2 linked regions of the Homo sapiens genome follow. The protein of the gene in region 2 purifies or fractionates together with the protein of the main gene of each other region. This does not show direct contact. Each region holds a gene or a part of one and is shown on either strand. Other genes may lie near its edges.

Region 1 (3,500 bases), on a different chromosome or scaffold from region 2:
CCACGTGGGTTTATTTCCCCTCACTCCCCTCAGACTCCCCTTAATGGCCATAAGGAAGGCAGGGAAAAGGTATTAACCAAACAAGACAAAAGAGACCGGAAGTGCCATCTTAAAGCCAGATGGTCACCATCTAGTGGCTAAAGAGGACAACTACAATGACAACCCACACAGGAGGGGCAGCAAGAGGCTGTTTCTACTGGAGGCTCTCAGACTCCAGAGCTCGGAAGAAGAGCCTGGGTGTCTCCTTTCAGCGCAGCAGTCTTTGTGTTATACAGATATTTCTCCTGGTTTTGGAGAGAGACAGGGAAAATGCTGAAAGATGGGAGAGAACAAACAATGGCAGGAAGAAGAAGAGATGGGAAAGAAAATGGAGACAGAAAACAGGTGAGCAGAAAAAAAACAACCAGTATTAAGTGAAAAATGATAGCTCTTGGCCAAATAATATCGAGTGTCCAAGTTAGGGGTGCCAAGAGGGGAAAGAATATGCTCACCGCGCAGTTCTGCGGGACTCAGAGAATAGACTTCTGGGCCCAGATAACGCTAATTGAGGCTCCTGTGTACTCCCCACACTCCCTCCCTGTGCTCCCTTCTCCTCTGAATAACAAGCCGAGTGACTGAACTCACATCTGGCCCCAACACTGACATCTGGCCCCTGCCCTGCACGCACAGCGCCTACTCCCCTCTGCTACCCCACTCTTCCGCCCTCAGGTCTGAGTTCAGCTGGCAGCTGTCATAACAGAAGGAAGTCTCTCACCTCACGGGGGCCGATGGATCTGGTGTGTTCTTCTCCAAGCATAGCTGCATAATAGGCCAAATTTTGGTTCATCACCTCGTCATTGGGGAAGAAGAGAAGATAGGTCTTGGCACATTCAACAGCCTGTGTATAATTCCCAACTGCAAAGTGGAAAGAAGAATGGCTGAGAGGAAAGAGTCAAAAGGAAAGGATAAAATCCTAGCACCAGGGACCACTTAGTGTTCAGTCTCCACAAAGCTTGAGGCAATGGCAGCATGACAAGCTGGTGCCTGCTACTTAACATGATGGCCTGATTTCAGGGGCAGGAGTTAAGTAATACACATAGAATGTGTGATTAATTTTAAGGTGAGGTGGTCAATGTCCTCAGGGCTGCCTAACAATGAAACAGAAAAGAATCAGAATTCTCTGCATGCCCACATCTTTTAAGATTCACAAATAATTCCAATACTCCTTAATATTTTGCCTCAATACACTCAATCATTAGATCAATTTCCCTGTCTTCCTACCTTCTTTTTTCTATAGATTTTCAGAAGACAAGGAAGATTACAATAGCAGATTGTCTCTTTGGCAAAATAGTTCTTGTTGATATTTGTTAGTCATCTCAACTCAACTGTAAATATTGTACACTCATCAATATGTTTGTAATGCTTAGCACACAGTAGGGACTCTGCAAAGAGTTGGTTTTCTGGGTATTAATTGGCAGCCCCACAAAAGCATCAGTGCTATACCAGGGAGAGGGCTAGCAAATGTCCTCTGAGCTAGTTTAAACTGTGGCATACCCTTATTTTGCTATTAACTTTAATTCAAAAGCAAAAATAGATTACAAGTTATAGAAGGGACAAGAGATGAGGTCCTAAGTCTCCCTCCCCCAGCTTTTTGGGTTGCTGGTATTGGCTTCCTAGGCCAGTTGTTTATAACAAACTACCCAGGGATCACTTGGCATGGTGCCTCCCATAGCTACTGAAATAAGCCAAACACCTTGAGGAAGTAAGTGGCTGTAATCCCTGCCCACCTTGCCTTTAGCTTCTTAGTTAGCCAGCAGAGAAAGAGGAAGGAAAGTAGGCCTTACTGTTATAGTAGGCAAACTGCAGATAATTATAATGCGATGGGAGGAAGTCTTCAAAGGGCTTCTCTCGACTTGGGTGGGAAGCAAGCTCCGTGACACAGTTCTGCTTACAGTTGAGGACCTGGATGTAATGATCTGAAAGGAATCAAACAGAAGGAATAACTATGAGGTCACTCTTTAGAACTCAAATTCTGGTTAAGATGAACAAATTCAAATGGAAGCAATTTTTCATCAGCTTCTCAGATTTAATAAATTGAGGAATGAGGGTGAAGAGTCCCCATTTATATTATCAGATGGTGACCTTAGAGTCCCAGGAGGCCTGGCTGAAGGTCTGGCTCTGAACTGCACGCACCTGTGATGGCCTGGAAGAGGTCAGCGTTGTACTCAAGGTAGTTGTAGCCATCGTAGTCATAGGGCCCTTCGCAGAGGGCACGGCACTCCTCATAGGCCACAAAGTATTCTTGCAGCGCCGCCTCTAGGTGGGGCACAGCTTCCTGTGGCTGTTCCTCTGAGTAGAGTCGCACTCCCAGTCGAAATTCTTGCTACTGGGAAGAAGGAGCACTCAAATGCAGGCCACAGAGGAGGAACCCTCTCTCCTTGCCCTCAGCCACCTTCACAGGGGTCCTAATTTCCTGTTCCTCAGGTTATGGATGGAAAGGGGTGACCTGGGTACCACTATAAAATGAAGGCCTTTTGTAAATGGTCTTTACAAAATATTTAGCTCTGGAAATTTAAAAACATTTAGCTCTTTTTTTCTTTTTTTGAGACAGAGTCTCACTCTGTTGCCCAGGCTGGACTGCAGTGGCACAATCTCAGCTCACTGCAACCTCCACCTCCTGGGTTCAAGTGATTCTCTTGCCTCAGCCTCCCTAGTAGCTGGGATTACATTGTGCCCAGCTAATTTTTGTATTTTAGTAAAGACGGGGTTTCACCATGTTGGCCAGGCTGGTCTCCAACTCCTAACCTCAAGCAATCCTCCCAACTCGGCCTCCTAAAGTGCTGGGATTACAGGTGTGAGCCACTGTGCCTGGCCAAAAAACATTTAACTCTTAATCTAGATGAAAGATATCTAGGAGTTCATTATGATTTTCTTGTACTTTTCTTCCCCCCCCATTAGTGACAGATTCTTGCACTTTTTTTTTTTTTTTTTTTTGAGTCGGAGTTTCACTCTTGTTGCCCAGGCTAGAGTGCAATAGTGCGATCTTGGCTCACTGCAACATCCGCCTCCAGGGTTCAAGCAATTCTCCTGCCTCAGCCTCCAGAGTAGCTGGGATTACAGGTATGCGCCACCACGCCTGGCTAATTTTGTGTTTTTAGTAGAGATGGGGTTTTGTCATGTTGGTCTGGCTGGTCTTGAACTGCTGACCTCAGGTGATCTGCCCGCCTCGGCCTCCCGAAGTGCTGGGATTACAGGCATGAGCCACCGTGCCTGGCCTAGGTTCTTGCACTTTTTTGTAGGGCTAACAGTTTTCAAATAAACACAACTTACTTTTTGTTTTGTTTTGTTTTGAGACAGAGTTTTTTTTTGAGACAGACAGCCCAGGCTGGAGGGCAGTGGCATGATCTCAGCTCACTGTAACCTCCACCTCCTGGGTTCAAGTGATTCTAGCGCCTCAGCCTCCTGAGAAGCTGGGATTACAGACATACACCACCACACCTGGTTAATTTTTGTATTTTTAG
Region 2 (3,500 bases):
AGGGATTGTCGAGTGCTGATGAAATCTCCTTCCTCAGTCAGGCTATGGAAAGCAAGCACATCCCCATCTGTGCCTCTGTTTTTCCCACTAGTAGTCATAGACTAGAGGGTTCAGAGGCGTGACTCAGAGTTTTATCTGCAGAAGTCAGAGCTGGGCAGGTGGATCTCACCATCTGCTCTGATTTGTTTACTGGCTATATTATAGCAGTGGAAAACTGTGTGTCCAGTCCTCTTAGGAAAAGTCCCAAAAGGATATTTTAAAAATCCTCTGCATACAGCTGAGCTGTCCTGCACAGCAGCCAGTAGCCACATGTGACCCTCAAGCCCGTGGAATGTTGCTAGTGCTACTGAGGAACTGAATTTTTAAATTTTAACTATTTGAATTAACCTTTACTAAATTCAGTTATTTGAAAATGTTAAAGTATGTTTGGAGCAACTTGAATGCATGAATCTGCTTTTTCAACTATAAATTTTATGATCTCTAAGTACAGATTAAATATTTTGGATGAAAATTTAGCACCTGAATGGAGATGTGTAAATGTAAATTACATAGCAGATTTCAAGTACTTATTATGAAAAGCACAATGTAAAATATCTCAATAATTTTTGTATAGATTACAAGTTGGGATGATTAATTAGATTAAAGGAGATCTATTAAAATTAACTTCATTCGTTTAGTTTTACTTTAAGGTGACTTCTTTTAAAAGTTTAAAATTAAGTATGTGGCTCACCTTATATTTCTATTGGTTAGTGCTGGTATAGAGTATTTTTAGTACAGAGGGTGGGTGCTGGAAGTCCCAACCACAAATCATTCTGAGGACCCTTCCTATGCAAAGAGCAAAGCAGGCAATGTTTTTTGCGTGTATTGACACCTTGTTTTCTGGGGCCCCAGTTCCGTCATGCCCCCTCCACTACTCTCTCACTATCCTCGCTAGGAAAATACCAAGTATTACCATATACAACATCTTAGTGAGCAGTTGGTGTGGGGATCTGCTTCACTTTGGGCGTTTTCATTTTATATTTAATCTTAAACACAAGAATGAAATGTGGAGTACGGAGTTTTGGGACCTCAGGAGGGAGAAAGTGGGTGCATCTGGGGTCCTCAGATTTACAAGCCAGCCCTGATATCCCCAGTTCCTTCCCAATCTTGCCTGTGACTTCCTGGTTCAGTTTCTCTAAAAAATATCACCGTGGGTCTTTTCTTCTTCTAATTCCCACAGGGTGAAAAAGGTGACCTGGGTATGATGGGCTTGCCAGGGTCAAGAGGACCAATGGGCTCCAAGGTCAGTGTGGGGTCCAAATGGACGTTCCCAGATCTCTGTCAGGCTCTGGAGCAGCTGCTGTCTACAAACATAGGGACTGGGTGGGGCTGCAGTCCCGGACTAGGGAATGTCGCGGATATTGGAGAGCCTGCCTTTACCAGCCCTTTGGAGAACATCATGCCCTGGGATGCAGGGGCATAGGGATGCCATTCCTGCTGTTCTCTTGGGCAGGAAGAACCAAGCTTCTGGACATCAGAGCAGATGGAAACCTTTGATCAGGACTTTGCAGAGTGATAAAAGCAATGTTCCTTTTAGGCCTGGTATAACCACAACCCTCTGGGACATCTTTGTGTTTGGTGCTGCAACCCCACTAAAACTCACAGTGCAATGTGGAGACATACCTTACCACCACATTCAGGGATTCCTTCTATTCTTCCACCAAACTCAGAAGTCCTACAGGGCTGATTGTAAATGTACCTTCTGCTTTCTTTTAGGGCTACCCTGGATCCAGAGGGGAAAAGGTTAGTGCTTTTCTTGGATGGTGTCCTAGAGCCTGGTCTGGGCTACTGGCTCTGGAATCAGAGACATGCAGAGAATGGGTCCAGGTCTCTCTTTAGTCTGCAACTGAAGCCACCATCCCTAGCTATTCCCCACCCTTTGTCAGTGGACTGAGAGAGAAGTGAGGGACCTCCTGAAGCAGGGCAAGCTGGTAAGAGAAGGGCTCCCCATAGAGGCAGAGGCCCCTCGTGTGGAGCACATAAGCAAATGAAGGCCGTGCCAGGTAGAGAATAAGCACAGTTTGCACAGAGTGCTGGAGGAAATTGGTGATGCATGTCTTTAGGCCAAGCTTTCACCACCACACAACCTTCTGACCTGGCCAAAAACCAAATCAAAACAGCATCAACCTGTGGACAAATTTCCTACAGGATGAGAGAGGATTTGGGGCCCAGAATTTTCCGTGAGTTGTCCTTTATGAATGCAAGAGGTCTTTGGGGTTCAACAAGAAGTAGATCACAAAGCATTCCTTCCCTGGAGAAGTCACCTGACATATCTGAGCCTATTTCTTCACTTGTAAAATGAGGGTTTTGGTTTAGGGAGCTTTTCAGTTTGAAATGCTTGAATTTCCCTCCCAGGATATTAACTCATTGACTTTCTCCTATGGTTTCTTCCTAGGGATCCAGAGGTGAAAAGGGTGACCTGGGTCCCAAAGGAGAAAAGGTAATGGAGAAAACCTTTCCATAGAAATGATAAATGTCAGTGCAAGTAGCAGCCCCCACCCACCCCCATCCGTGGACTGATGATGGACTGATGGACAGGCCTCCATCTTGAAAATGACCAACAAAGCCTGTCCACAGCCATTTCAGGTGTTATTTCAGAGGTGATCACAATTATTTGTTGCTCTTTTCACAGGGTTTCCCAGGATTTCCTGGAATGTTGGGGCAGAAAGTAAGTAACCTTGAGGTAGTGAAAATAGGCCTCAATAAAAATATCAGGTCCTCCAAGCACAACAAAAAGAACTCTGCCTCCTTGTCTATCAGGCAGGGATGGTGGGTTTAACCATGGAAACTTCTATTTTGGGACGGGAAGCAAGTTGCTTTTCACCCTGGGGAGAGGGTGGCAGGATGGTCTGGAGCCTCCCTCTAGCTCAATGGGAAGGAAAGGACAACCCATCTGGGTTTTGGGTTTTTGTTTGTTTGTTTGTTTTTTTGCTTTTTTGCTTTTCCTACCTCTTAGAGGGCTGTGGTCCTATTCAAATGCAGAAACCTTTCTCACAGGGGACTCAGATCTGAGCCACAACGGTCAAAGCCCCTGTCAGCACACAGGCCTCAGTGTAAGGCACAGGTGTCTTTAGCTTAAGGTCACTGTGCCTTATTGCAGTCCTTCTTCAAGGGCGGTGCACATACTGCCAGAAGGACACAAAAGTATTTGAACTGAAGACTGCTAACATTGTTTAAGAGTTAAATTTTGTATTTAAATAGTTAAATATTGGCCAGGCATGGTGCCTCATGCCTGTAATCCCAGCACTTTGGGAGGCCGAGGTGGGCAGATGGCTTGAACCCAGGAGTTCGAGACTAGCCTGGGCAACATGGTGAAATCCCATTTCTACCAAGAAAAATATACAAAACATTAGCTGGGCATGGTAGTTCGCACCTGTAGTGCCAGATACTTAGGAAGGTGAGGCGGGAGGGTGGCCTGAGCCCAGGAGTCAAAGCTGCGGTAAGCCATGATTGCACCACTG

Evidence for each region. Proteins that work in one complex are often made in the same cells at the same time.
Region 1: the proteins of COLQ (region 2) and P3H1 purify together in Homo sapiens (affinity purification with mass spectrometry; 2 studies listed by BioGRID and IntAct, with this or other methods). This does not show direct contact.

The regions. Positions count from the first base shown.
Region 1 is NC_000001.11:42,757,029-42,760,528, forward strand, and holds part of P3H1 (prolyl 3-hydroxylase 1 isoform 1 precursor), read right to left. Parts: intron 2,363-3,500; coding exon 2,173-2,362; intron 1,956-2,172; coding exon 1,824-1,955; intron 895-1,823; coding exon 755-894; intron 1-754. UniProt on the Homo sapiens protein: Basement membrane-associated chondroitin sulfate proteoglycan (CSPG). Has prolyl 3-hydroxylase activity catalyzing the post-translational formation of 3-hydroxyproline in -Xaa-Pro-Gly- sequences in collagens, especially types IV and V.
Region 2 is NC_000003.12:15,473,207-15,476,706, reverse strand, and holds part of COLQ (acetylcholinesterase collagenic tail peptide isoform I precursor), read left to right. Parts: intron 1-1,219; coding exon 1,220-1,282; intron 1,283-1,755; coding exon 1,756-1,782; intron 1,783-2,434; coding exon 2,435-2,479; intron 2,480-2,671; coding exon 2,672-2,707; intron 2,708-3,500. UniProt on the Homo sapiens protein: Anchors the catalytic subunits of asymmetric AChE to the synaptic basal lamina.